Homo sapiens: one gene and its partner. The protein of the gene in region 2 purifies or fractionates together with the protein of the main gene of each other region. This does not show direct contact. Each region holds a gene or a part of one and is shown on either strand. Other genes may lie near its edges.

Region 1 (3,500 bases), on a different chromosome or scaffold from region 2:
AATTCAGTCACATAATCAGGCTCCACTTCTAATTCCAGTTCTCTTGCTATTTCTATCACATCTACAGTTACATCCTCCATTGAAGCCTTGAACACCTCAAAGTCATCCATGAAGGTTGGAATGAACTTCTTCCCAACTCCTGTAACACTGATATTTTGACCTCCTTCCATGAATCACAGATGTTCTTAATGACACTAGAATGGTGACTCCTTTCCAGAAGGTTTCCAATTTACTTTGCCTGGATCCATCAGAGGAATCACTACCTATGGCAGGTAGAGCCTTATGAAATGTATTTCTTAGATAATATGACTTGAAGTTGAAATTACTCCTTGATTTACGGGCTGCAGAATGGATATGGTGTTAGCAGGCATGAAAAAAAAGTCCCAGATAGCATCTTCTTCCAATGGAAGGCTGTCTCATTAACATTGAGAATTTGTTGTTTAGTATAGCCACCTTCATCAATGATCTTAGCTAGATCTTCTGGAAAACTTGCTGCAGCTTCTATGTCGGGACTTGCTGCTTCATCTTGTATTTTGATGTTATGGAGATGGCTGTTTTCTTTAAACCTCATGAACCAACCTTTTCTAGCTTCAAACTTTTTTCTGCAGCTTCTTCATCTCTCTAAGCCTCCATAAAATTGAAAAGAATTAGGGTCTTTCTCTGGTTAGGCTTTCGCTAAGGGGATGTTGTAGATAATTTGATCTACCCAGACCACTAAGACATTCTCTATGTTAGCAGTATGGCTGTTTTGTGTTATCATTAGTGTGTTCACTGGAGTAGCACGTTTACTTTCCATGAAGAACTTTTCCTTTGCATTTATAATTTAACTAGCAAAAGAGGTCTACCTTTTAGCCTGTCTTGGGTTTTGATATGCCTCCCTCACTAAGCTTAATCATTTCTAGCTTCTGATTTAAAATGAGAGATGTGCATCTCTTCCACTTCAACACTTAAGAGGTCACTGTAGTTATTAATTGGCTTAATTTCAGTAATGTTGTATCTCAGGGAGTAGGGAGGCCCAAGAAGTGGGAGAGAAAAGGGAGAAGGAAGAGGGAGCAGTCAGAATAGACACAAAAATTAAGTATGCCATCCTATGGGCACACTCCAAAATGATTACAATAGTAACATCAAAGATCACTGACTGTAGATCACTGTAACAGACAGAATAATAATGAAAAAGTTTGGATACCAAAATGTGAGAAAGAGACATGAAATGAGCACATGCTATTGGAAACACGTTCAGCTGATAGACTCGCTTGATGTAGGGTTGCTAAAAACCTTCAATTTGTTAAGGAAAAAAAAGTGCATTATCTATGAAGTGCAATAAATCAAAGTGTAATAAAATGAGGTACACCTGTACTTTGTCTTCATCGAGCACTTCTCATATTTGCCAAGTTCCCACTGATTGCTGAGTAATAAGAATAAAGTTAAAATATTTTAAATACTGTATCATCACAGCTCAATGGGATGTTGTGCCTAACAGTGACCCAGAATAGAATTATTACATTTCAAAATGCAACTTTCCACTTCTAAACTATACAACTACAGCTACTGTCTGTTAATATACATACAACTCCAGTTAACAGCTTCTATTAGCAAAGTAAAATGTAATTACTTTGCCTGTAAGGTACAGATTAACTTTTTCCCCACAGGTCTATCTTATACTTGAAATGTAGGTGAACACTGAGTCCTGTACCTGTTTCTAATTAGCCTGAATTAGTTGCACGTATTTAGAATACCATGCATGTTTTAATGTCTTACTGTAATTTCTGAAATTTTTATTTTAAAATATTAACTAATTTTAACATGGAATCATATGGAAATCCTTTAACCAAAAGCAGATTACCCTCGCCTTTTTATCTTGAATGTGAAAGCACATTTTTACAATGTTAAATTTTTTAAGTGAGTAAAATTTGTAATTTGCATCAGGTCATTTTACAGATAAAATATAAACTGCACTATTGGCTAGATATCACATGTTCAAATCTATAATTTTAGCAAGTATGTATTAATGTTTTGAATTGTTAAAAAAAAGTCAATCTTTTCAAATAAAGTGATTTTCCAAGGTAATGTCTTATTTAGGGCTTATATTAAATTTAATCCCCGCAATCCTTACTGTATTATGTAGGTCTCTTATTTTATTCTTTCAGAGTTTACAGTAGCTGTCAGAATTGATTAAACCTACTTAACCTATGCTGCATATAATAGAAGAGCTTAGAAGGCATTTGCTTGTTGACTTTCTAGAGAGCCAGAAATGATAACATCTGCTTAGCAGAAAAATGCCTGGGAAAGCTTCACTAGAGGGTCCTTCTCTATCACAACAATGCTCCTGCTCATTCCTCTCATCAAGCAAGGTTAATTATTTATGAATTATCTCTGAAGTTTTGTGGCTGCAATTTATCTTGAACTACCATTTGGGGTTCTATATGAACTATTAACAGTTCTTAAGCTTTTCTGCATAGTGACACATCTGAAAAAGTGTGAACCCATATACAATATAACTATCAGTGAAGTCTCATTCTAGGTAGACTCATGGATTAGTAAGCTTGCAAGTTTTGTTCAGTTCCTCTATCTGTAATTCCGATGTTTTCTGAACCATTGGTACACAAAACACTTACTGATATATTAGGAGATGAGAGACAATAAAAACCACACAGGAACAGCTATAGGTTTATATAACTCACACGAGAGTTATGATTCTACCAGCTTGTGACATGAGCATTAATTCTATTAACAATCCAAATGAATCAAATTGTCTTATTTGCAGAACACAGGAAAGATGTATTTTCTATTCACTTAGAACATGTTCAAGTGTTCACCTAGAAGGCTTTTAACAAAGTAACACATTGAACAGCTATTTTGTATGTGAAGCTCACCAGCATGATGTAGAAAATAAGATTAAAATGCCACCCTTGGCCAGATGTGGTGGCTCATGCCTGTAATCCTGGCACTTTGGGAGGCCAACGTGGGTGGATCGCCTGAGGTCAGGAGTTCGAGATCAGCCTGGCCAACATGGTGAAATCCTGTCTCTACTAAAAATACAAATACAAAAATTAACTGGGTGTGGTAGCGGGCACCTGTAATCCCAGCTATTCAGAAGGCTGAGGCAGGAGAATCGCTTGAACCCAGGGGGCAGAGGTTGCAGTGAGCCAAGATCGTGCCACTGCACACTGGTCTGGGTGACAAAGCAAGACTCCGTCTCAAAAAAAAAAAAAAAAAAAAGCCACCCTTGCTTAGAAGGAACAAACTGTATAAAATCAAGTAGCTGTAATAAATTTTTAACGATAATATATGAAAAACATATAGATTTATATGTATTTTTTGCGACTGGTACGCTATTTTAGTTTTCTTTTTTTTTGTGGTGCCATCATGGCTCACTGCAATATCAGCCTCCCAGATTCACGCGATTCTTGTGCGTCAGCCTCCCAAGTAGCTGGGATTACAGGTGCGTGCCACCAGGCACACCTAATTTTTGTATTTTTAGTAGAGAGGGTTTTCCCCAT
Region 2 (3,987 bases):
CACACCTGTAATCCCAGCACTTTGGGAGGCCGAGGTGGGTGGATCACCTGAGGTCAGGAGTTTGAGACCAGCTTGGCCAACATGGCGAAACCCCATCTCTATTAAAAATACAAAAAATTAGCTGGGCGTGGTAGCAGGCGCCTGTAATCCCAGCTACTCGGGAGGCTGAGGCAGGAGAATTTCTTGAACCTGGGAGATGGAGGTTGCAGTAAGCCAAGATCACATCACTGCACTCCAGCCTGGGCAACAGAACGAGACTCTGTCAAAAAAAAAAAAAAATCTTGCTAAAATATAGCTCCCCAAAGTGTTAATAGTGATGCTGGGGCTATTTTAACTTTCTTCTTTATAAGTGCCTTATGTAATATAATGAGTAACTAAATAATTTATAAAAGGTGAATATTAATTCTATAACCAGAAGTATACAATAGATCTATATCCAATTATAAAATAAAATGTTTTAACACATCAGAAGCAAATTGGTTTGACATGTATGCAAACAATAGGAAAACAGCATGACCATTATAAATAAATGCCTGCCAGTTCTTGAACATTCTTCTTCAATTCAACAAGACCTTTTCACTGTTAAGATTCTTCTCTTAATACACAAGCCAGGTGAACAGTGTCTGCAGACTGAATAAGAAAATTTGAACAAAGCAGACAGAAGAGTGTTTGGTTCTCCTCTACTTCTCCAGCAAATAATCAGTTGAAATGTTAATTTAGATATAATGCTTGTTAAATGTCTTTAAATCCTAATATTAGTGAGATTCATATAAAATTTAAAATTTGCGGCTGGGTGCGGTGGTTCATGCCTGTAATCCCAGCACTTTGGGAGGCCAAGGCAAGTGAATCACCTGAGGTCAGGAGTTCCAGACCAGCGTGGCCAACGTGGTGAAACCCTGTCTCGACTAAAAATACAAAAATTAGCCAGGCATGGTGGCAGGCGCCTGTAATCCCAGCTACCTGGGAGGCTGAGGCAGGAGAATCACTTGAACCCAGGAGGCAGAGGCTGCAGTAAGCCGAGTTCATGCCATTGCACTCCAGCCTGGGTGACACAGCGAGACTCCTTCTCAAAAAAAGAAAAAAAAATTGCGTATTATTCTTCATCACTATGACTATTACTTTACTCATATGTACTTTTTATTCTTATGACTAACTCTGTATAAAAATAAATCTCAACTCATGGATTCCTTGGAAAAAAATCCCTGCTCATGTTCACACAGATTTCTATGCTTGGACTTCCAATCACATTCCCACTTCTAAAAGCCTTAAAAGCAGGCGACCATTATCACTTGCTTACTGACACTAGTCAGGTCATCTCTAATCCTGTCATATTTTAAAACTGAGGTCTTTGGAGAAGATTGGAGAAGATGGATGATGTGATTCTACCTAAACATTAATCTCAATAAAACAAAGTTTTAACTTTAGACTCCAGGATATGCATTTCTCTACCATTATAGAAAGTGAGTGCAGAGGAATGATTTGAAAAATGAGAAAGTCATTTGGAGGCCCGTGAAGAGGAGGGTCCACCTGCATGGTCCATTGTTCACTGGAAAGGAAGGCCTGGGATAGGTCACTGGACAATTCAGGAAAAGCAAAGCAATGTTTCCATTTCCTAAAAACAAAAACATTTTATGCATTTATTTAAAGATTTACTTAAAGATATAGACCAGAGAGTTGCAATTTATGTGACAAATAATTTAGTCTTTTTAGATTGAATCAAATGAACTTCTTCAAAGGGAAAAATGCAAATGAAAGCTACAGAAAGTACCTGGGGATGTGATTTTTGTGACTGTGAGCAATGAGGTGACAGGCTCTGTGGTAGATTGTGGCTGTGCTTGACATAGCAGTGTGGTACCACGCCGTATGACTGGGTGCAGGCAAGGCTGTGTGAGGATTAGAATGTGTGATTTCCATTTTATGAATAAAAAGGAAATATAAACTTACCTGGACCTGAACTTTTAGACCTGCTACAACAATTGTTCCCTCCTTTTCAGGATCCCTGTTTTGATGAATAGCAGAATGGGGGAAGAAAAATAATCATGAGACAGCAGGCCTTTCTTAAGAGCACAGACCGACCTAGAATATCCCCTCCAGCGCCACATCTGTGCTGACCTCACGCACATAACAGCTGTGTGAGAGTGAGGCTGGGATCTGTCTCTGAACTCACACCAGGTTTCTAGATCAAAGGTATGGGAATGCAGTGGTTCTGAAACATGCAGCTGCCCACACAGCGGCTCCAACTGCGCAGTCTTCCAACCTGTCGTCCCAGGAGTCTGTTTTAGGGACACTTCTAATTCAAAAGTCCAATCGCCAACCCAGGTCTGTACCTTCTTGCTGGGAACCTTCATCCCAGAGCTCGATATTTGACTTCCCTCTTGGGGACACTGCTGTGTGCAAACACCGAGGCCGTGAGGAGGGTAGAGGGTCAGTGACACACACCAGAGAGCCAGGCACCTGTCTCAGCCTCACACCCGCACCCACACCCGCCCAACCCGGTCCTGACAGGCGCCCCGTCGCGCGCACACACACACATACACCGTCTGCCACATTTTGTCACACAATTTCCCTTCTCCGCTCCCCAAGCACGCACAGGCCTGAGGCTCCCTGCGGGCACGACACGCCAGGTCTGGGCCCTGGAGCGCCTCACTTTGGGCGGCAGTTCTATCCCCAGTCCTACTCGTAAGAGTCCCGTTCCGCCTCACCTAGCTCGGACTTCTCGCCCGCAAGTGAATAATAACGGTTAAGGTGACTGAACCGTTAAGAACGCAATGTAAAGGGCCCTTGGGGTCCAGGCAACACTGCCCAAGGGGCTTCTGGGAAATGTAGTCCACAGCCGGAAACTGATCCTTTTGGGCGGAGGCGCAGGCGCGCGCGCATCCGGCGGGTTCGACTCACTTACCAGGAACCCACGCAGGAAGCTGAGGAGGAGAACAGACGCCTCTGGGCCACTGGCCGGGCCACTTGAGCGTGGGACCGCCGAGTGTGACCCTGAGGCCGAGTGCGTGCGGGACTGGGCGATAGCTCCGCCAGGCAGGATTTTGTTTGTTTCACCTCTTGAGGTAGTCCCGGCGTGTAGTACATAATAGGCGCTTAATATGTGTATTGTAAAGAATGAGTGCCTGGCCATTTGTATTTGCCTTGTGAGCGCGTGTGTGTGGCACTGTGAGGGTTGCGGGACCGACGGAACCTCTCTGGCTCTGGCGGGTTGTGTTTCCGCGTGTGTGTAATTTGAGTGTGAGTCAGTGTGTAGTGAGTGAAGGGATCTGACTGGAGAAAACCACAGTAAATACCCGGGGCTGTGATTTTTGTGACTTTGGTCAATGGGACGACAGGCTCTGTGGTAGACTGGCTGTGCTTGACGTAACAATGTGGTACTATGCCGTGTGGTTGCCGGCAAGGCTATGTGAAGATGAGAATGTGTGATTTGGAAAATCTGGATGTGGAACATCACGGGTGCCAGTGGAATTGTGACTCTGTGTGTGTATAAAAGTTTGCAACCATAGGCCTATATGTCTGTGGGATAAAGAGAATATGTTGCGTCTTCTTGGAGTATCAGCTTTATTTAAACATTTGCATCAGAGAGTTGCGATTTATGTGCCAAAGATTTTTGTCTTTTTATATTGAATTAAATGAATTTTTTACAAAGAGAAAAATGAAAATAATAGTAACTTTCAAAAAATATTAAGAATTTCCTTCCACTCTTATATTCTGGCAATGGATCTTTGGCAATGGGTCTTTGGCAGATCAATTTGAAAAGCTTGGACTGAGGAAATTATACTTGGAAAGCACATTAGGCAGTCAGCCCTTGGTTCCTAAATACCATGCTCCACTGAAAGGAGCAAGGCTCCATGGAGAAATGGCAGATTCCAGAGCTGGGGAAGGGAAAGTTCAGAATGAACTTGGAACATCTTGTGCTTGAAAGTAAGGCAGTGCTCAAAGAATGGTGGGGACGTGTTCAAAGGACATGGAAACCAGATTGAAGGGACT

The links. The genes of interacting proteins can lie anywhere in the genome.
Region 1: the proteins of ZNF546 (region 2) and DNAJC10 purify together in Homo sapiens (co-immunoprecipitation; one large-scale study listed by IntAct). This does not show direct contact.

The regions. Positions count from the first base shown.
Region 1 is NC_000002.12:182,722,757-182,726,256, reverse strand, and holds part of DNAJC10 (dnaJ homolog subfamily C member 10 isoform 1 precursor), read right to left. Parts: intron 1-3,500. UniProt on the Homo sapiens protein: Endoplasmic reticulum disulfide reductase involved both in the correct folding of proteins and degradation of misfolded proteins.
Region 2 is NC_000019.10:39,995,873-39,999,859, reverse strand, and holds the start of ZNF546 (zinc finger protein 546), read right to left. Parts: upstream 2,801-3,987; 5' UTR 2,703-2,800; intron 2,000-2,702; 5' UTR 1,945-1,999; intron 1,613-1,944; 5' UTR 1,534-1,612; coding exon 1,450-1,533; intron 1-1,449. UniProt on the Homo sapiens protein: May be involved in transcriptional regulation.